3 linked regions of the Homo sapiens genome follow. The protein of the gene in region 2 interacts with the protein of the main gene of each other region in a biochemical or structural test. Each region holds a gene or a part of one and is shown on either strand. Other genes may lie near its edges.

What was found.
Region 1: the proteins of FCHO1 (region 2) and EPS15 form a complex in vitro, tested with the Homo sapiens proteins (2 studies listed by BioGRID).
Region 3: the proteins of FCHO1 (region 2) and PICALM form a complex in vitro, tested with the Homo sapiens proteins (one study listed by BioGRID).

The regions. Positions count from the first base shown.
Region 1 is NC_000001.11:51,516,252-51,523,554, reverse strand, and holds the start of EPS15 (epidermal growth factor receptor substrate 15), read left to right. Parts: upstream 1-4,288; 5' UTR 4,289-4,323; coding exon 4,324-4,356; intron 4,357-5,108; exon of another isoform or gene 5,109-5,283; intron 5,284-7,303. UniProt on the Homo sapiens protein: Involved in cell growth regulation. May be involved in the regulation of mitogenic signals and control of cell proliferation. Involved in the internalization of ligand-inducible receptors of the receptor tyrosine kinase (RTK) type, in particular EGFR.
Region 2 is NC_000019.10:17,768,461-17,775,485, reverse strand, and holds part of FCHO1 (F-BAR domain only protein 1), read right to left. Parts: intron 5,062-7,025; coding exon 4,909-5,061; intron 4,695-4,908; coding exon 4,590-4,694; intron 3,030-4,589; coding exon 2,931-3,029; intron 2,842-2,930; coding exon 2,745-2,841; intron 1,248-2,744; coding exon 1,203-1,247; exon of another isoform or gene 1,199-1,202; intron 1,093-1,198; coding exon 1,008-1,092; intron 431-1,007; coding exon 406-430; intron 31-405; coding exon 1-30. UniProt on the Homo sapiens protein: Functions in an early step of clathrin-mediated endocytosis. Has both a membrane binding/bending activity and the ability to recruit proteins essential to the formation of functional clathrin-coated pits.
Region 3 is NC_000011.10:85,975,070-85,982,094, reverse strand, and holds part of PICALM (phosphatidylinositol-binding clathrin assembly protein), read left to right. Parts: intron 1-91; coding exon 92-223; intron 224-319; coding exon 320-350; intron 351-866; coding exon 867-966; intron 967-4,001; coding exon of another isoform or gene 4,002-4,025; intron 4,026-5,412; coding exon 5,413-5,472; intron 5,473-7,025. UniProt on the Homo sapiens protein: Cytoplasmic adapter protein that plays a critical role in clathrin-mediated endocytosis which is important in processes such as internalization of cell receptors, synaptic transmission or removal of apoptotic cells.

The DNA.
Region 1 (7,303 bases), on a different chromosome or scaffold from region 2:
AGACCCGTGTATAATTGTGTATAATTCCCAGCTTTGTCATTATGAATTTGGACAAATTCTTCTTCTGTTAAAAAAAAAAGATTAAAAATAACCCTTGTAGAGCTGTTTTGAGGAATAAATGAAATAATGCACATTAAAGCAGCAATTTGTCTGGGTGCGGTGGCTCACACCTATAATCCCAGCACTTTGGGAGGCTGAGGCAGGAGGATGACTTGAGCCCAGGAGTTGAAGACCAGCCTAGGCAACATAGCAAGACACTGTCTCAAATAAAATAAATAAATAAATAAAACAAAAAAAAGAAAACAGCAATTGTTGGTTATTAGTATTCAGATTTAAGTCATCAGATACAACTTTGTTTACCTAGGGAACATCTACTTTTTCAATGACAGGGATATGTCAGTTGTTCAAAGCACCCTTATTCTTATTTATTTATTTATTTTTATTTGATTGATTTTAAAAAAATAGAGACGAGGTCTCACTATGTTGCCCAGGCTGGTCTTGAACTCCTGGGCTCATGCAATCCTCCTGCCTCGGCCTTCCAGAGTGCTAAAATTACAAATGTGAGCCACCTGGTCTGGTCTGGCAGACCCATTCATGTAACTAATATATCTGTCAAACCAACTTAGTTGTTGGAGGGTTGCCTGAAGGGTAGAGAGTTAAATGGTGATCTTGAAGAATGGTATCTTATAGCTGCTACTTATTGAACATCTATTCCAGGCCAGTCTCTCTGATAGGCCATTATACATGAGCTCTAATCCTTAAACCATCCATACAAAGTAGATATTATTATCTTCAATGTAATCATGAGGAAAATGAGGCTTAGTGACCCAGAGACATTAAGTTGTCCTAGAAAAAACAGATAAATTCTTCTTGTCTGCTCCATGCAACTCATTCTTGTTATAATGAATTAGATTATAACATATATTCGATTGGCTACATTTTTCCTCTCCTAAAATAGATTTGGGATATGACCCAGTGCTCTGACGAGATCTGGGCCACACATTTGCAAATTGTCATTGGTTTGTCATTAAAACAAACAAACAAACAAACAAACAAAAACACCTCTCTCAGAAGTTCTAGGCCTTTTTTGGGAATTTGGCCCATTATTCTCTTCCCTATAGACATGCTCCCATCTCCCATTACATGTCATTAATTTAAACCAGAACCTACGAATGAAGAAAGAAGCCACTACAAATTACTAGTGGTCTGGAAGGGGACGTGGGGCAATTCCCATATAAAGATTTTAAGCAAGTCTTCCCTTGCTAGGGCATCTGATTCTTTTTATTTTTTGTTAACCAAGACCCAAGCCTGCTGTCAATGGCTCTTACTTATAGAAGCTATTTATAAAATAAATTTATAAAATATTTGTTCCTTGATTTTCTTATGGGGATAAAGTGAAGATCCAAATAACAATTATATATGAGATTGTATTCAGTTCAATTCAACAAACTTTTATAATGTACTTACTGAACATTAGAAGTTGTGCTTCTAAACATTTGGCCGGGCACGGTGGCTCACGCCTGTAATCCCAGCACTTTGGGAAGCCGAGGCAGGCAGATCACTTGAGGTCAGGAGTTCGAGACCAGCCTGGCCAACACGGTGAAACCCTGTCTCTACTAGAAAAAAAAAAATTAGCTGGTGTGGTGGCGGGTGCCTGTAATCCTAGCTACTCAGGAGGCTGAGGCACAAGAATCGCTTGAACCCAGGAGGTGGAGGTTGCAGTGAGCCGAGATTGCACCGTTGCACTCCAGCCTGGGTGACAGAGTGAGACCTTGTCTCAAAAAAATAAAAATAAAATAAAAACATTTATAAACGGTGAAAAGCAATACTGTATACATACAAGGTGTTATTTATTTATTAGAGATGGGGTCTCTCTATGTTGCTCAGGCTGAATTCGTGCTCTGTGCAACTGCCTCAGTCTCCTGTGTAGCTGGGACTATAGGCATGTGCCACCATGCCTGGGTAAGGTGTGCTTTTGACTTAATATAAATCATATAAAAGTTAAAACAGTAATAATTCCTTACTTTTCCTGTATGAGAAACTGAAGCTCAAAGAGGTTAAATGGTTTGCCTGCGGTCACACTCTGATTCTTAATATTCTCTTTGCTACTCTGCACTGCCTTTCCGGAAACTACATGGCAGGGTTTCCACCTTATTCATCTGAGAGGAATATCTTACATCTCATATGGTTTGGAGGAGTCCCCTTGAATAGCAAGTGAAATTATACTCCCCAAAGCGATTTGCTCCATGATTTTCAGATTTCATAATTTGTGTAGCTACAAGTTTAGGCACTTTTGTATATGTCATCTCATTCATCCTCACAACAACCCTAAGGGCATACAACTAGTGAATGGGAGAGCCAGGAATGGAACCTGGATATTCCTAATGTCTGAGTCCTATTTATTTCACTATACTATGCTGCTTTGTCTATCAGTTGTATAACCCTGGGCAAATCACTTAGCCTCTGTGACCCTGCATTACCTCATTTGTAAAGTGAGTATGACGATTACTTCCTTTTAGAGTTGTGAAGCTCAAATGTGCTAATATAAAGTAGAAAACACCGGTAGAAACACCGGTTGTGGTTATGGCTGATAAGTGTACCAAAGTGAAGTAATGTAAAACAGTATCTCTTATTCTCTCTTCAGTTAAAGAGATTAGCAGCAAAAAAGAAGCCAAGGAAGATGCTCTTGAATAAGTGGTTACTCACCAGACCTATATGGCTTGCTCTTGTTAGCTGGCCTTTGCCAGAAGGAGTCTGAGTAGAATTAGGAGTTCCTTGGGAAATTTCTGGAATGGTTTGCTTGTGGAGGCAATAGTCTAAAAACTTAGGTGGGGCTAACTCCATCCTGGGTCTTGTTCAGTTGTCCCTCCTACCACGGGGACTGCTATGATAATGGTAATGGGTGTAGGCCTGATAGAGTTGTGGTTTGTTGTAATGGGAAGCCATCGTGACTAAGAAATTAAGACCAATTCGGGCAAATACATTTATTGAGGCCTCTGTGGTAGGCTAAACTATGAGGGAGATAAAGCAGTGAGTCAGCCCCTTGTCCTCAAGGATTTTACAGTGCAGTGAGGTGGAGACAAACCCTCAACTAACGCTTACAGATAAGGCAGAGTATAAAAACGGTCACATCAGAACAACTTAGAGGTGGGGTGTGGAGTTCCTAGAAGGCTTCTTGAAGTAGGTGGTATATACTCTGAGACTTTGAAGATGAATTTCAAGTAACTGGGTATTCCAACTGAAGGTTGGCAGCATCAGAAGGTGTAGGATGTGTTATGTTTAATATAGGCAGGAACGAAGGCCTTTACTGAGCATGCACTGTAATGCTAGGGTCTGACGATATAGAAATATATTGAAAACAGTTCTTGCCATTGAGGAGCTCTTAATCTAGAGGGATAGATAGGTGTAAACTGTCATTAGGGTGATGACTTCACAAGGTAGAGAAGAAAGGTTATAAAGGAGAGTGTGTAACTCTGACATAAGGAAGAGAAAAAGATACTTTGCAAAGGAGGTGAAACTTGAATTATGTCCTGAGAAAGAAGGAGGAGTTTGCTAAGTGGATGATGGGAGAAGCTAGGAGTGCTACAGGCACCAGCGTTCCCTTGTTAAACAATCTAAATGTGACAGGCACCAGGCAAATACATTTTTGCTTCCCCTTTCCAAATGGATTTTGGCTGTGGGAGGGAATGACTTAATGTCTTCTTTTCCAATATACTAGCAGATGGTTAAATATTTACAGTTAGACTTGGATTCTAATTCAGCTATATAATTAGCTGTATGACCTTAGTAAGACACTTATTTGTGTTTCAGTTCCTTCATTCATACAATTCAAAAAATAAGAGTCTAGTACAGAGCCTGGCATATATAAAGTGCCATTATTATTTTCTATCATTATCTCATTTAGTCTTTGTAAGTAACTGGGCCTCTAGTTACAATTTCCCCCATTTTTCAGAAGCAGGAGCTCAGCGTAGGTAGGTGGCCTGTCTGAAGTTCACAGGTCAATCTGCAGTCGCCTCCGCAGCCCGTCCGCTTTAATTTTATGTCCGCGCCGGGTTTTCCAAGGCGGCCCCGGGGGCAGGCTCTGGTCCGGTGGCCGAGACTCCGGCGCCAGGGTTTGGGCGGCGCCGCGGCCGGCTCCGGCGGGCGGGCAGGCGGGCGGGGCCAGGCGGGGCGGGGCGGGCGTGGGGAGGGAAGTTGTGGAAGTTAGGGGAGACGCCCGCCCGCCCGCCCCGGCCTCGCCTGCGGCCGCTCCCTCCGCCTCCTCCCCGCCCCGAGCCCCAGTCAGCCCGTCTTCCTTCCCCTCCCTTGCATGATGGAAACACCATGGCTGCGGCGGCCCAGCTCTCTCTGACACAGGTAACGCCACACGCCCGTCCGCCGGGCTTGGCCGGCCGGTGCCCCCTCCCCCACCGCCCTCAGCTTCGCCGACTTCTTGGCTTGTGGGCCAAGCAGGCAGCTTCTTGGCTTGTGGGCCGGGCGGCCGGTGTGTGTGAGGGAAAGCGGGTGCGACTGCGGGAGGGCGCCCTCCGGAGCCGGAGCCCCCCTGCGGCCGCCGCGACCTCGCCCAGGGTCGTCGGGCGCCTCCTGCCCCGCCCCGCGCGGCCCTCGCCGCCCTCCGCGCCGCTGCCGAGTGGACTGTGACCCGGCCGCGCTCTGCCGGTGCCGGGCCGGCTCCCGCGGGGCAGCTTTCACCTACCCAGGAAGTTTCCTCCCACAGGGCCGCACGCATCCCAGGTGAGCTCCTGTTGAGCTCGCGCGGGCCGGCCGCACCCCCGGGCCGCACGAGGCTCGCCCGCCAGGCCGGCTGCGCGCCGCCCCCAGTAGGAGTTGCCTTCCAGAGCCGGACGCGCAGGCCCCCCAAGCCAGTCTTTCCTCTCCAGACCTGCCTTTCTCCCAGGGTCCGACGGAAGCCCTCCCTTCCCAGAGTTTAATGTAGTTAGCCTCGCCTCCAAAGAAGTCTCATCCTACTCAACTACCCACTCTGCCGGCCCCTTCCTCCGTTCAGCCTCTCCCCCCTCCTGATCAGGTTTCCTTCTGGGTCAGACCCCCAATGCAGCCTTTTGCCACCCACGTCTGCTTCCACTTCAACTTCCCCTCGGGGGGCTCACGCCTGATCGCTGTCCAGGTGGATCCCTTTAACGGGTGTGGTGGCTCCGCCAGTCTTGGTGCCAGGAACGGCCTCCCGGGGAGCACTTTTCTTGGGGGGAATCCTCAGCAAAACCTGTTCTCGAGCTTCCCTCTTGCCTCGTTGCTTCCTGTCAAAGTCCAGTCCTTGTGCTTCTCAGAAAACCTCTAAACATCACTCACACTGGGAACCTGGTCCCTCCCTCTCTGTAAAGAAGCCAATTACAATGTAAACATGGTGTCCGGGATGATAAGGTGACAGACACCTGCCAGTTCCTTCCTGCTCCTGTGACCCAAACTCTCCCCCGCGTCTCCTCAGACGGTTCTCTCCAGAGCTGGTGGCGCGTGCTTCCCGATTGGGGCCCATCCCGTCTTCCTTGCCTGCATTGTGGTATCTCACTGCCATCTTGTACTCCTTGGCCTAGATTCGTCGGTGCTTCTAAGGCTTTAGCGCTGGGATAGGGCAAACATTTCGGCAGTGGAGTTTTCTGTGTTTAAAATCAAGAGGCTTTGGGGTGCTTTGCCTAGCACTGTAGGATAGAGAGAAAAAAATGTTTTCTCAGAAACCAGGAGTCACGTACATGCTTCATGTAAAATAACTAACCCGTGTTTGCAGGAATTCTAAGTGTCATAAGGAAAGTCTATTTCCCAGTTTTTTTGATGGTGGTGGTGGTTGTCCTGTTCTGACAAGCAGAGAACCCTTTAACATGGAATGTGGTGGTTTAGTCTTGGTTATGTATGTTTGGAAGGGTCCTCCCAAAACTCAAATTTGAACAACTACAGCACTGACTTTTAGGTATTCACTTTCTGTGAGTCTAGTTAGTGACTTGCATTAAACAAGATCCCTGTTGGCAGGCTGTTGTTTTCTGGCTCTGTTGGCCAATTCTGGCAGGAGTTTTCCCTTGAAGATTTTGTGCTCTTAAAGACTTCCGTAAAATTGCTTCTCAGTTGTGTGCATACTTTATTCTCTCCCTGGGTAATACCATGTTTTTAGCTTCTATTTACATCATTCATCTCTGGAGAATTGCTTCAAGCTCTGTCAGTTTTATAGCCATTTAAAAAATTTACATATGTTCTTGGGTTATATATTTAGGTATTAATGTGTACACAGTAAGTACGGAATCAGTAGTAGCTATTATCCTTCAGTGCCTCACATATGAGATAATATACATTGGTGGTTAATTTTTATTGATAATTCAAATAAGTAAATTCAGAATATTCTGATTTTAAAACATGAAGAGGCAATAAGAGGGATTACGAAGGCACACGAAAAAATAACATTTCCAGTTGCTAGTATACCCTAATGTGCCTCCTTGTTACTTCAAAACTTTGCAGATTTGTGGTTTTTAAATTTAATTTAATTTTTTTATAACTGCCTGAGCCCAATACACTAAGATAACAATGCAGCCTGGTTTCACATTCATTACTGACCCGTTTGTCATCCTCTGTTCCCCCCACCCTGCCCACTCTCCCAGCACACACATTTAGACATAGGCATACTCAAGTGAGAGCTCATTCAGGGCAGGGACATCTTTTAATCCATCTTTCTCCCATGGTACCTATCTGGAAGAAAGTAATTAATAACTGTTGTAGGAATGACTGAAAGCTCTAAAGGGTTCTATAACAGTTATGGAGATTAAACATGCTCAAGTTAATTTCTGCTTCTGTTCATATGTTGATGATTTTCATTCAGCAAATATTTTTATAGTACCTATTATGTACTAGACATTGTACTGGGATTATCGTGTTTATAATTTCTTGCCTTTACCAATTAAGCAAAACTGAGTTTGGGGAAAAAATGTGAAAAATGTTTTAGCTTATGCCTTCCTTCCTTTTTCCAAGCTTGCCAACCAACCCTTCAACTCCCCAGCCACCAAAATAAATTATCTAAATTATTATAGTCTAGCTTCTAGAGATGATAGAATGCTAGAGTACCAAAATGTTAGTTCCAGTTCTGCTTTGGCCACAGCTAACTGTATGGGTTTGGGTTAAATATCCAGGCCTCAGTTTTCTTAACTTTAAAAGAGACTCAACAAACATTTGCTGAGCATTCAGTATGTGCTAGGAATTACTCTAGGTACTGAGGATATATATACTCATGAACAAAAATAGTTAACAATTCTTTGACCTTGGAGACAAAACCTGGAACTTATTTCTGCTAGAGGAGTTTGAATTAGCT
Region 2 (7,025 bases):
GAAACCTTCTTCATCCACCTCTGGACATGTCTAGGGGAGTCAGGGGGCAGCAGTGAGTCAGGCGCCCCACTATCGAACCTTCCATCTCACCCTGCCAACCGCCCCCCGCCCTGCCCCCAGGCCTTGACTCAGACCTCAAAACCAACCCTGATGGCAACGACTGTCTTCCCTGGGTGTGTGGGCAGGTTCCTGGGACAAACTGAGCTTCGGCAGGGACATTATTCACACCCACGTAGTCCATGGGACTTTGCAGCTGAGGTGGGATATGAACCCAGCCCCCAGGCTCCAGCCCGCCCCTCAATCTCGGCTCTTTAGTTTCCAGTAGGGATCGGGACTCTAGGAGCCAAGAGTGGGATCAAACTCCTTCCACTTGTAGCCCAGCCTGACCCCTCCCACATCACTCACCCCTGAATCGGGCTCCAGGAAATCTCTGGGGATGGAGGAAGAGATGTTGGTGTCAGCTTCCGCAGCCCATCTGGTGCCCCCTGTCAGCCCCCAACACTGGACATGGAAGCTGGGGCAGCTCCCAGACTGTGATACTGCCCTGAGCTAGCCCTAGAGGCGGTGGGACCATGGGGCTTGCTTGGGGAGGGGGTTGAATCTGAAGTTAGCTGAGTAGAGAGTGTTCTCAAACAGCCTGGGAGGGAAGGAATCCTGGAACTCATTTGAAGGGCTGCCTTGTGAAGATAGGGAAAGTCGGGGCTAGCCTTGGCAAACAGAACAATCCTGGGCCAGCTTGGGCAGGGAAGATGCTACGTTACTCTGGGACAGGCAATTCCTGGCCTAACCTAGCAAAAGGAAGAATTCTGGACTAGCTTGGGCAGCGGTAATATTGAGCTAGCCGGGGGCAGAGGTACTCCTGGTCTAGCTCAGGTAGAGGGAATCCTGGTCCAGCCTGGAATATGGATACTCCTGGGCTATCCTAGGAGGGGACTTCTGGGATAGCCTGGGCAGGGGAGGGGATCTCGGTCTAGCCTGGGCCAGACCGGGCAGGGGTGCTTCCTCACACAGCTGCAGGTGGCTCTGGCTCCCGCTCCCGCCGGCTTAGTCCTGGAAGGCGAAAGGCCTTGGCTCCCCGCAAACGTTTCATCGCTGAGGATAGATTGGGGGGCACCTGAGCACTGTGAGCCTCCTTTCACATTCAGATCAGCCTCCCTCACCCCCATGGTCCAGCCTGGGCATCCAGGCCCAGACGTACTTGCCTTCCTGCAGGGCAGCCGCACTGTATGCCTCGAAGTCCAGAGGTCCTGAGACAGGAGACGGAAACTCAATTGAGGGGCTGGGCACGGTGGCCCATGCCTGTAATCCCAGCACTTTGGGAGGCTAAGGCGGGCGGATCACCTGAGGTCAGGAGTTCAAGACCAGCCTGGCCACCATGGTGAAACCCTGTCTCTGCTAAAATTACAAAAAAGCCGGACATGGTGGCAGGCGCCTGTAATCCCAGCTACTGGGGAGGCTGAGGCAGGAGAATCGCTTGAACCCAGGAGGCGGAGGTTGCAGTGAGCCGAGACTGCACCACTGCACTCCAGCCTGGGTGACAGAGCAAGACTCTGCCTCAAAAAAATTAAAAAAAAAAAAAAAAGAGAGAGAGAGAGAGAAAGAAACTAAATTGAGGGTGGGGAGACTGCGCTTGGAAAGGGTAGTACACTTTTGGCCACAAAATGGCACCTGGATCTGAACTCAAGGTCCATCAGGTTCCCGGACAAGAACCAGCCCCACATCATCAGAAGTGGGATGGACCAAGGGGCTGGTCTGGTTCCAGCAGGGCAGTGCCACCGCAGGGGGTGACATGAGCTACTTCTACATACTTCCAGCATTTGTGGCTGGAACTTGGGTTGGGTCGGGGAATGGACCATGCGTCTGTGCAGTGGGCTGGGCTTTGAGTGACAGGATAAGGAGTGGGAACTCTCTCCCAAGAACAATGGGGAGCCATGGAAGGTGTGTGAGCAGGAGGAGGACAAAACAGATCTGGGGCCTGTGAAGGGCAAGAGTGGGGCCCCATGCAGGGAGGGGAGACCTGAGCCAGGCCTGAGCCAGAGCGACAGGAGGGAGAAAGAACAGGTTTTGCTAGTTAACAAGACTTGAGGACGTAACTGTATACCAGCATTTAGTGAGTGCCTACTGTGTGCCTGGCACACCCTTTGCCCTTTACCTGCATGAAATCACTGAATGTTGCAACATTATTACATCCTCACTTTACAGATGAGGAAACTGAGGCTCAGAGAAGTCAAAGCACAGGTCCTAGGTCACACAGCAAGCGATGAAGAAAAGACTCAAACCCACGTCTCACTCTAAAACTTTTGCTCTTAACTCCTTCCCAGTCCTGCATCTGCGCATTCCCAAATTGTTCTTTTGCTCAACAACCCTCAATGGCTCCCTTAGGCCCTGGGGGTGAAGTCTGATCAGCCAAGCCTGGCATTCAAGGCTCCTCTGGGATCTGGTTCAAAGACATTTACACATAAGATCAGGCTGGAGAGCTGGACTTGTCAGCAGCCCATTTTTCCCATGAAGAAACCAAGGCCTGGCCATGTGCAGTGGCTCACGCCTGTAATCCCAGCACTTTGGGAGGCCGAGGCAGGCAGATCACCTGAGGTCAAGAGTTCGAGACCAGCCTGGCCAACATGGTGAAACCTCGTCTCTATTAAAAATAAAAAAATAAAAAAAAAATTAGCTGGGCATGGTGGCACATGCCTGTCTGCAGCTGTGGCCCCGAAGCCCGACCCCCAATGGCTGCCCTGACTCACCAGGCTTCTCCCGGCCTGTGCCCTTACTCTCTGCAAACTTCCTGAGTAGCATCTCCACGCTGACGTTCTCGATGTTCTGCTTAAATTCCTCATGCACCTGTGCCGGGTGGGCGGGGTGTGTAACTGGTCAAGGCCCCTTTGCCCAGCAGTGACCCCAGCCTCATTCCTCACACCTGCCCAACTCACCTGCCCAATCTGCACGTGCGTGTCCTCCACCGAGTGAGCATATGAGCCCAGCAGTGCCTTCATGTGCCTCAGGTGTGTCTCCTCCATGGCTTGGAAGCGCTGAAGCAGGAGGGCAGAGGCAGGTGGAAAGGAGGTCAGGGCCAAGAAGAAGTGGCCATATGACTCAGCCTGACCAATCAGAATACCCTAAGCCCTTGGCTCAGTGATTGATTTGGGGAAGGGCCAATGAGAGTCTGCCCTAGGACTTTCATTGACTCTACAGGAAAAGGCACTTCCATTCCTGAGCCAATGTGCTGATGGGATGTAAGTGGGGGTTGCTGGTGCCCAGTTTGATGCACACATGTGCATGCTTGCACACACATGCACACACACACACACACAAGGGGATGTCTGTGTGGGAGTGATGTCCCCAGAGAGAAAAACAGACTTAAGAAGCAGAAATAGTGGTCAGCTGTGGTGTATCATGCCTGTAATCCCAGCACTTTGGGAGGCCAAGGCAGGTGGATCATCTGAGGTCAGGAATTCAAGACCAGTCTGGGCAACATGGTGAAACCGTTTCTACTAAAAATACAAAAATTAGCTGGGTGTGGTGGCACGTGCCTGTAATCCCAACTACTAGGGAGGCTGAGGCAGGAGAATCACTTGAGCCCAGGAGGCGGAGGTTGCAGTGAGCTGAGATCACGCCACTGCACTCCAGCCTGAGTGACAGAGAGATCCCATCTCAAAAAAATAAAAGAAGCAGAAATTCACAATTTCCTGCCAGCACTATTTGAGCACATGGATTCAGCTATGACTGAAACCTCCACAACTCAAAAATAAAACTTTACAGTTCCCTGAGCTTGTCAGTTTTTTTAAATTTTATTTTTTATTTTATTTTTTATTTTTTTGAGACAGAGTCTCGCTCTGTCGCCCAGGCTGGAGTGCAGTGGCGCAATCTCGGCTCACTGCAAGCTCCGCCTCCTGGGTTCTCGCCATTCTCCGGCCTCAGCCTCCTGAGCAGCTGGGACTACAGGCACCCACCACCACGCCCGGCTAATTTTTTTGTATTTTTAGTAGAGAGGGGGTTTCACCGTGTTAGCCAGGATAGTCTCGATCTCCTGACCTCGTGATCCACCTGCCTCGGCCTCCCAAAGTGCTGGGATTACAGGCATGAGCCACCGCGCCCAGCCTTTTTCTTTTCTTTTCTTTTTTTTTTTTATATACACCTGTCGGTTTGAATGAAGGCTTCTATCACTTGTAACTTGAAAAAAGTTCTGATTCCTAATCCTCAGATTCCAATCTGCTTGAATTTATTTTATTTTTTCGAGACAGGGTTCCACTCTATCACCTAACCTGGAGTACAATGGCTCGATCTTGGCTCACTGCAACCTCCGCCTTCTGGTTCAAGTGATTCTCCCGCCTCAGCCTCCTGAGTAGCTGGGATTACAGGCACCTGCCACTACGCCCGGCTAATTTTGTATTTTTAGTAGAGACAGGCTTTCGCCATGTTGGCCAGGCTGGTCTCAAACTCCTGACCTCAGGTGATCCTCCCGCCTCGGCCTCCCAAAGTGCTGGGATTACAGGTGTGAGCCACCACACCCTGCCTGGGATTTCTGCAGTCCATAACCTCCAGGGCAAAGGCATGTGTGGGTCTTAAAGGTACAGATGCCTGGTTCTTACCAGGGCTGAGTCCAGCATCTTCTGCTCAAAGTCAGCTCGGGCTGAGTTGTATTTTTCCACTGAGCGCCGCAGGCTCTCTGCCGCCTTCTTGGTTTTAGTCTCCGCCTACAAAGCACAGGGAGGAAACGGGGATGGGAGGGCGATACTCAGGGGGCCTCCCCCAGGCCCCATCACCTGGCAGGTGAACTCCTCGGGGTACCCAGGGTGTGATCACCCACAGGTTCCAGGACCGTCGCTCTGGGATGTGTTTCCACTCTCTGATCAGGCAGCCCCTCCGCCCCGCGGCAAATTCCTCAGAACCCCCCCACTGTGAGCCCACCTTGTCCATCTCCTTCTGGCTGGTACTCTCCCTCCGCAGCCGCTCCTGGTCCATGCAACGGTTCAGGTAGTTCTCGCGGGACTTGGGCAGGAGCTGGCTGACGCCCGAGAGTACCTGCACAGCATCCAAGGTGCTCACCACTTCCTCCTTGCACTGCGGGGTAGGAGGGGATTTCATGGGTAGACTGTGAAATTCCTGACCTCCCAAACACTCCACGTGATGTCAGCTCCACAGTCTTTTTCTATGTGTGTGTGTGTGTTTTGGTTTGGTTTTTTTTAGACAGAGTTTCGCTCTTGTTGTCCAGGCTGGAGTGCAGTGGCACGATCTCGACTCACTGCAATCTCTGCCTCCCGGTTTCAAGCAATTCTCCTGCCTCAGCCTCCCAAGTAGCTGAGATTACAGGTGCTCACCATCACACCCAGATAATTTTTTGTATTTTTAGTGGAGACGGGGTTTCACCATGTTGGCCAGGCTGGTCTCTAACTCCTGACCTCAGGTGATCTGCCCACCTTGGCCTCCCAAAGTGCTGGCATTACAGGTGTGAGCCACCACGCCCGGCCTCTGTGTGTGTGTTTTAATAGCAATGGGGTCTTGCTATGTTGCCCAGGCTGGTCTCAAACTCCTACACTCAAGCAATCCACCTGCCTCAGCCTCCCAAAGTGTTGGGATTACAGGTGTGAGCCACTACGCCCGGCCTGTACGTTTTTCATTTCAAAACATTTTTAACTTTAAAAAAAAGTACTATTTACACATGGTTCATATTTCAGAAAGTTGTAAGAGGTAAGCCAGGAAAAAGCCTCCCATATATGGGCCCTCCAGCCTAGAAGTCCCCAATTATTACTGTGATACTTCTCTAGAAATAATCCGCATATGGATAAAGATGCTTGTTCTAACCCAAGTTTTATGACAAACAGTGGCAGACTGTGTTGCTTAACTCACCGTTTTGTGTGTGTGTGTGTGTGTGTGTGTGTGTGTGTGTGTGTGTGTGTGTGTGTGTTTGAGACGAAGTCTCGCTGTGTCACCCAGGCTGGAGTGCAGTGGCGCGATCTTGGCTCACTGCAAGCTCCGCCTCCCGGGTTCACGCCATTCTCCTGCCTCAGCCTCCTGAGTAGCTGAGACTACAGGCGCCGCCACCACGCCCGGCTAATTTTTCTTTTGTATTTTTAGTAGAGACGGGGTTTCACCGTGTTAGTCAGGATGGTCTCGATCTCCTGACCTCGTGATCTGCCTGCCTCGGACTCCCAAAGTGCTGGGATTACAGGCTTGAGCCACCGTGCCAGGCCTTTTTTTTTTTTTTTTTTTTGAGGCGGAGTCTTGCTCTTTCACCCAGGCTGGAGTGCAGTGGCACAATCTCAGCTCCCTGCAACCTCCGCCTCCCGGGTTTAAGCGATTCTCCTGCCTCAGCCTCCCAAGTAGCTGGGATTACAAGCATGCACCACCATGCCCGGCTAATTTTGTATTTTTAGTAGAGACAGGGTTTCACCATTTTGGCCAGGCTGGTCTTGAACTCCCGACTTCAGGTGATCTGCCCGCCTCAGCCTCCCAAAGTGCTGGGATTACAGACATAAGTCACTGTGCCCAGCTTTTTTTTTTAAGAGATGGGGTCTCACTGTGTTGCCCAAACTGGTCTCTAACTCTTAGGCTCAAGCAATTCTCACACCTCAGCTCAGCCTCCCAAGTAGCTGGGACTACAGGCATGCACACCACGCCTGGCCTGCTTTTACCACTTAAAAATTCACTCCTGGCCAGGCACAGTGACCCATGCCTGTAATGCCAACATTTTGGAAGGCTGAGGCAGATATGTTAGATGTTTGACCAGCCTGGGCAACACAGCAGGACCCCTTCTCTCTCTCCTTTTTTTTTTTTTTGCCTTGTTTTGTTTTTGAGACAGAGTCTCACTCTGTTGCCCGGGCTGGAGTGGTGTGTCGCGATCTCAACTGACTGCAACCTCCACCTCCCAGGCTCAAGTCATTCTCCTGTCTCAGCCTCCTGAGTAGCTGGGATTACAGGTGTGTGTGCCACCACGTCTGGCTAATTTTTGTGTTTTTAGTATAGACAGGGTTTCACCATGTTGGCCAGGCTGGTCTGGAACTCCTGACTTCAAGTGATATGCCTGC
Region 3 (7,025 bases), on a different chromosome or scaffold from region 2:
AAACAAGGAGAAAAGGCAAAGACCTCCTTTAGAAAACCATAGCGTCATAAAGTTCCTTACAAATTCTATTTCGTCTGTTTGTAACTTTAAGGCTTTGATGAACTAGGTGGACTTCTCAAACCAACAGTGGCCTCTCAGAACCAGAACCTTCCTGTTGCCAAACTCCCACCTAGCAAGTTAGTATCTGATGACTTGGATTCATCTTTAGCCAACCTTGTGGGCAGTAAGTAGTCTTTGGATACGTTAATCTTCTTTTATGTTGTTTTATTAAACTGCGTCTCGTGTTATAAAATGCTTTTTTGTTTTTCTCCTTTCCTAGATCTTGGCATCGGAAATGGAACCACTAAGAAGTGAGTGTTTAATATACACATTGTTTTCTCCGTGTGTTATTTAGTGTTTTCTCCATGTGTTATTTGGAGGGTTGATTTGGCTTTCCTCTCAAAAATATGTGTAGAGATATCAAGTCTGCATCTTTTTTTTTTTTTTTTGACACGGAGTCTCGCTCTGTTGCTCAGGCTGGAGTACAGTGGCGCAATCTCGGCCCACTGCAAGCTCCGCCTCCCGGATTCACGCCGTTCTTCTGCCTCAGCCTCTCAAGTAGCTGGACTACAGGCACCCACCACCATGCCTGGCTAATTTTTTTGTATTTTTAGTAGAGACGGGGTTTCGCCGTGTTAGCCAGGTTGGTCTCAATCTCCTGACCTCAAGTGATTTGTCCACCTTGGCCTCCCAAAGTGCTGGGATTACAGGCATGAGCCACCACGCCCAGCCTCAAGTCTCTATCTTACTCTGTTCTATATAAGTATATAGCTAAGGAAACTTTATAATTAGAGACATTTAATATTCTCACTTATGTTTATTTAAAGTGATGTAAATTGGAGTCAACCAGGTGAAAAGAAGTTAACTGGGGGATCTAACTGGCAACCAAAGGTTGCACCAACAACCGCTTGGAATGCTGCAACAATGGTGAGTTGAAAAAGCTCCTGATAGACTAACAGTTGAATAATTTAGTTAAATATGTAACATGAAAATGTTTTTAAAGTGATAGACATAAATAGAAGGATTGTTACTGAGTTTAGAAGTATAAGTAATTGTATTTCTTTCAAAGGAAGCTGGTTGCCTATATTTACCAGATACATTTTAGTGGCTAACAAGTATTTAAGGGTTACTTTGTGCCAGACATATTCCAGTAAATAATAATGTTTTATTTTTTATAATCCTCCTATTAATGTGTTAGTCACTATTATTATCCCTATTTTACAGATGAGGAAGTGGAGGCTCAGAGTTATTAAGCAATGTGCTCAGGATTACAGAGATCTTAAATGATGAGTTGAATTTTTATAACCTAGGCAGCCTAACTATAGAACATATGTCCTTAATCACTACTCTATATTACTGACCTCAAATTTTTTATTTATTTTTCTAAAATACAAAATCTTGTGATTTCATTATTGGTAAAGAAACTATACTTGCTTCGGTTTTGTCATATAATTTATATATATGACAATGTGTTTGGCAATTATATATATGTCATATAACTTACACAGTTGATACTCATTATTTGTGGCAGTTAAGTACTTAAGTCACCCCAAACACTGAATTAGTGAACACTGAACCCTTGCTGGGGGAAATATATGCATATATGTATATGTCACATAGACGGTCCTTTTAGAAAACCTCATTCTAGTATATTCTATTTATTTTATGAAAGAGGAAATAAAGTTCAGAAGTGTTAAGTGACTTGCTTAAGGCTGTCGCACTAACTGGTGCCAGAGTTGGAATTTTAGCCCTGTCCAGCTGGCCCCAGAGTCAGAGTTTCTTGCAGTATGATGGACTCCCCATCCTCCTTCTCTATCCTCTGGTCTGGTATGAGAGCTGAACCAAGGCAGAGTGTCCTTTGTTCCATCTCAGCTGGAGGTGAACTGTATTGGATGAGTCAAATTTTTGCCCCTCTGCAAATGAGCATGAATGGCCTTGAAAGCACCAGGAGTGTTGATTTTTGGTGTCACAAAGTTTATCATGTAGGTGAATTTGCAAATATGGAATCCATGAATAATGAGGATTAACTGTATTTTCTAATTAAATAATTAGCATCTAGTAATGAAGAGGTTTTAGTATGTTTTAATTACTGTAAGGTATGGTAGACCCAGAATAGCTCTGTGGCTATTCTCCTGTCCTTGGCCAGTTTCTATCTTACCAACCAACAAATTTTCGTCAGTCAAAGAAAACTCCTTGTGGAAAAGTTTGAAGCATTCTTTCTCCAGACAGTAGGCTAGTAGCTGTGTTTTGATTACACGGGCTACACGTTACTGACAGCTGTCCTGTTACTGTTAGAGGCTGCGGTTGTCCTTATAGCCACTTCCAGAGCACTGCCCTGTTTTCCGTGGGTTAATGATATGTTAAAATTAGTAGGACTGAGCTAAAAATAGTATGTTTGTTAAAATTTGTGCATTTTATTATATAGCTTAAGACTTCATAAATGGAAAGTAATATTGAGATTTAGCTACCTTTTTAAGGCAGTGTTTTTTTGTTGTTGTTTTTGTTTTCTTTCAGACAGTGTTCATTGCCATCACTAATTTTATTATTTTGTATTTTTTTTTTTTTTGTGACGGAGTCTTGCTCTTTTGCCCAGGCTACATTGCAGTGGCGCGACCTCAGCTCACTGCAACCTCTGCCTCCCAGGTTCAAGTGATTCTCCTGCCTTAGCCTCCCGAGTAGCTGGGATTACAGGTGCCCACCACCAGGTCCAGCTAATTTTTAAATTTTTAGTAGAGACTGGGTTTTATTATGTTGGCCAGGCTGGTCTTGAACTGCTGACCTCAAGTGATCCACCCGCCTCAGCCTCCCAGAGTGCTGGGATTACAGGCCTGAGCTACCACGCCCAGCCTATCATCACTGATTTTAAAACTTTGCATTTAAGTAGTTTAGATTTTTATACACACAAATACACAATCTTAAACATGTAAATGTTGCTGTCTTGAGGGAATTGGAGCATGTATCACCCCACTTCTAAAGATTTTTTTTTTCCCTAAGTGCAAAGCAGTTGAAAAGCAGATTTAAGTTGAAATCCATCTCTTTGACTCTGAATCCAGTCTTCTTCCCACTATAACACACCTCACTGACTAGGGTATGGTAGGAGTTTAGAGTAGTGGATTTTATGGACTCGTGTGAATTATGACATTGATGATGTATGAGGAATGATATAAATACCAGTGCTGCTATTAAAATATAATGAATATTTTCTTATATTAAGTTAGTATTAATCTATATGAAGTATTAGGAGTTCATAGATAGCACTTAAGACTGACTACTAAAATGTAGTAGGTATTTAGTCATGTAGAATTTGTATTTAAGTTGATAAGGTAACAGTCTTTATCTTGCTGTGTTATATATGGTAATGTGTATCATCTCCTAAGGATTTTGCTTAAATATTTATATGTATTTTATGGAGTTTTCTTTTTAATGGCTAATGTTTGGGGCTGATAATGTGATTCACTACTTAAGATAAACTGCTGCTTTTGACATTTCTTTACATTTCTAACCTTTTTATTAATCCTTAAACACTGTCAAGGTTTTTCAGTGTTTTTTAAATTTAACACAAATTCATTGGAATTTTATTAAAATATATATTATACTACAAATTCTTTTAATTAGTGCTTGCTTTTTTTCTGTGGTAGACATCTGATGCAACCCTGTTTATGCAATGCCCAAAATTTTGCACTGTTGACACTGTTGATAGAATTGATGTTTTAATGGTACTTGTAATCAATAAACTATTTTTTATATAAAGAGATGAGGCCAAAGACTACAATTCCCTTGTCAACCTTGATAGTGTTTTAGTATAGATGTTCTTTCATTAGATACTGGAAATACAAGGGATTTTAGGTAGTTAGTGAATGTACATGTGAACTAAAATGCTCTCTGTGTATTTTCTGTTGTGTAAGTACTTGTTCTAATCCAGTGTTATTGCATTATGTAATTGTTCTCCCTGGGAAAAACAGAATGGCATGCATTTTCCACAATACGTAAGTGACCAAAAACGAGCCTTTTTGCAATAAATTGGCATGCTATTAACCACTGCTGTAGCAGAATCTCATAACCTTTCAGCTATTACTTGTTTTCACATTCAGATTTTCAATGTGCCAGAAATTCTTCCTAGCATCTACTGATTTCATGGGTGTGTTGCAGAATTGATTCTGATGGTGGCATGGGAAATACCGATTTTTTTTCTTGCTTAATATTCCGCCATTTGCTGCCAGATGGCTGGGTGTCTGTGTGTGTATCTGTGCTGCCACTATGCACTTGATGACTTCTGAATGAAGGGAAATGTTGATTGTGGTAATGTTTAAAATAACAACTGCATGAAATCTTACAGGCTTCTGCTCTTCTTGGCAGTTTGTCTACTGCTCTTGCAGATCTTGGTTTTAAGTAGGGAGAGACCAATAAGTCCTACACGCTCACCCGAATACTAAACTTATAACTATTCACTTTAGTGTTATTTTTTTAAAGTTATATTTCATTTAATTTCTCCATGCATATGTTCAAATTGCCATATAATTTCAGTTATTTTATGTTTTAGCAGTGTTATTGGTCTTTCACCTTTATTCAATTTCAGTTTTCATTATGAGAAACACACACAGGAAATGTTGTTAAGACAGCAACTATATCTAAAATGATTCTGTTCTCAAATTGTATGTTTACAGATAATCAAAGTAGTAGGAAGAGGGGAACTTAAACATCATAGTGATAGATGGTTCTTTTAAACATGAAAGCATAAACTGACCTAATTGATTGTTCCTCTTAAATAATTTTTGGAATAAATTAGAAAGCTAACGTACATACTCTATATAAGAACTATGGCTCATAGAAATAGTCATACTCAATAGTAGTTTGAAACCTTTGGAGTTTTTTGAAAAGAGTGAGTAAGATCCTTAGAAACTAACTTTTTGGAAGATCAGGTTATTGATTGATTTGAGATCTTTACATTTTTTTCTTTGAATGCTAAAGCAATCAGGTACCTAAGTAAGAAAACATTCAATAATACTTTTTCTGGGTAGACATTTTTTAATGATAGTGATAGGCTTTAAATTTTAGAACTATTTAGAACTATTTAAGATACTTTTTTAAATCTAAAGATTTTTAAAGCTGTAAAAAGCATGATGAAATCTTAGATCACTGCTGTATCTAAGTTTAAGTGGTATAGTTATCCTTCTAATAAGTCTGCTTTTCTGCTAATTTCAAAACACTTTTTTTCACTGACCATTAATCGACAGTTCTTAATGATCACAAGTGTCACTTACTCACAGCTGTCTTAGCAATTCTTTTTAGTGGAACTACAGCTACTAATTCCTTGAACTCAGTTGACACACATGAGTTATACTTTCTTGTTCATTTTTCCTTTCACTATGTTAGGCACCCCCTGTAATGGCCTATCCTGCTACTACACCAACAGGCATGATAGGATATGGAATTGTAAGTATTTTCCTAGGTACAGCTTTTGGAAAAAATATTGATTCATATATAACATGTTTTTATTACAATTTAACCTAAAAAAGAATTTAGTGCTCCTCATACTCCTAGCCCTAGTGCCTAATGCAGTAGAACCATAGCATTGGTTTCATAAGTATGTCTAGAATAATCATTATACAAGAGATCTTATGCATTAATGTTCATAGTATTACTTGGTTTATTTTTCTCCTCGTAACTTTGCTGGGCCTTTTATATTTCAAACATTAATGTTAATTCTAAGCCTTTGTTGCTGTGACCATATATTAAATACCAGTGAGGTCTTATAACCTGATATTGTAGGGCATGGGAGGGATTAACACTTGAATTGTATAGAGATAAATTTAGTCTGATAAAGGCTAGAGAAATTTTCCTGTGACAATGATTATTACAGTACAAAAACAGTCTTTTAACCTTTCAAAATGCCACAATGTGCATTTTAGATTGCCCTTAGTTTCCCAACTCTCAGTATATAGAGACTCAATTAGAAAAGAAATGGTGCTAGTAGCTTCAACCCACTGGTATGTATTTGAGGAACTGTTCCTGGTAGAAGGCAGTACCGTGTCCCTTGGTATTGCTACTGTGCCTGCTATGTTACTTCTTTATGTATATGATATGGAAGTAACTCCTTTTATACATGTGGAGAAGTTTCACAGCTTTTTTTCATAGTCATTGCATTAAAATGTCTGCTGAGGCTGGGTGTGGTGGCTTACGCCTGTAATCCCAGCACTTTGGGAGGCCAAGGTGGGTGGATCACCTGAGGTTGGGAGTTCAAGACCAGCCTGACCAATATGGTGAAACTCCGTCTCTACTAAAAATACAAAAATTAGCTGGGTATGGTGGCGCACACCTGTAATTCCAGCTACTTGGGAGGCTGAGGCAGGAGAATGGCTTGAACCCAGGAGGCAGAGGTCACAGTGAGTTGAGATCATGCCACTGCACTCCAGTCTGGGCAACGGAGCAAGACTCCATCTCAAAAAAAAAAAAAAAAAAAAAAGTCTGCTGAGAAACTCAGGCCATAAACTTAAAATGAAGCTCTAAATGCAAATAGTAGTCTGCTTGAAACAATAAATAGAACTTCTTGAAAGGAAAGATTTTAGAGCATTGCATTTTAACCAAAACAGTATTCTGTTTGTGCATTATTTTTACACTAGGTATTGTCACTTACTAGGTTAATTTTATACCCTGTAGTGGTAATTTTTAAAGAAACATATTTGGTTGAGATTGTATTTTCAGTTACTCAAGAAAGAGTTAACCTCTGGTTTGTAGTTTAAGCTCTTTCTTGATTCTTATATGAAATAAAATGGAAGAACTAGAGCAGGCTTATTCAGAGAATCAACTGTCTTCACTTGTGATCACTTGCATAATGGCAAAAGTACTTGATTTGTTATACAAATTTACTTTGAAATTTCTTAGCAGCGAAGACAGAGTCTTAAGTTTTCTTGATGTCTAAACCTGATAAATTTGGAAACTCTTAGTCTTAATCATTTTATCTGTTGTAATACAATAAAGTTTACATT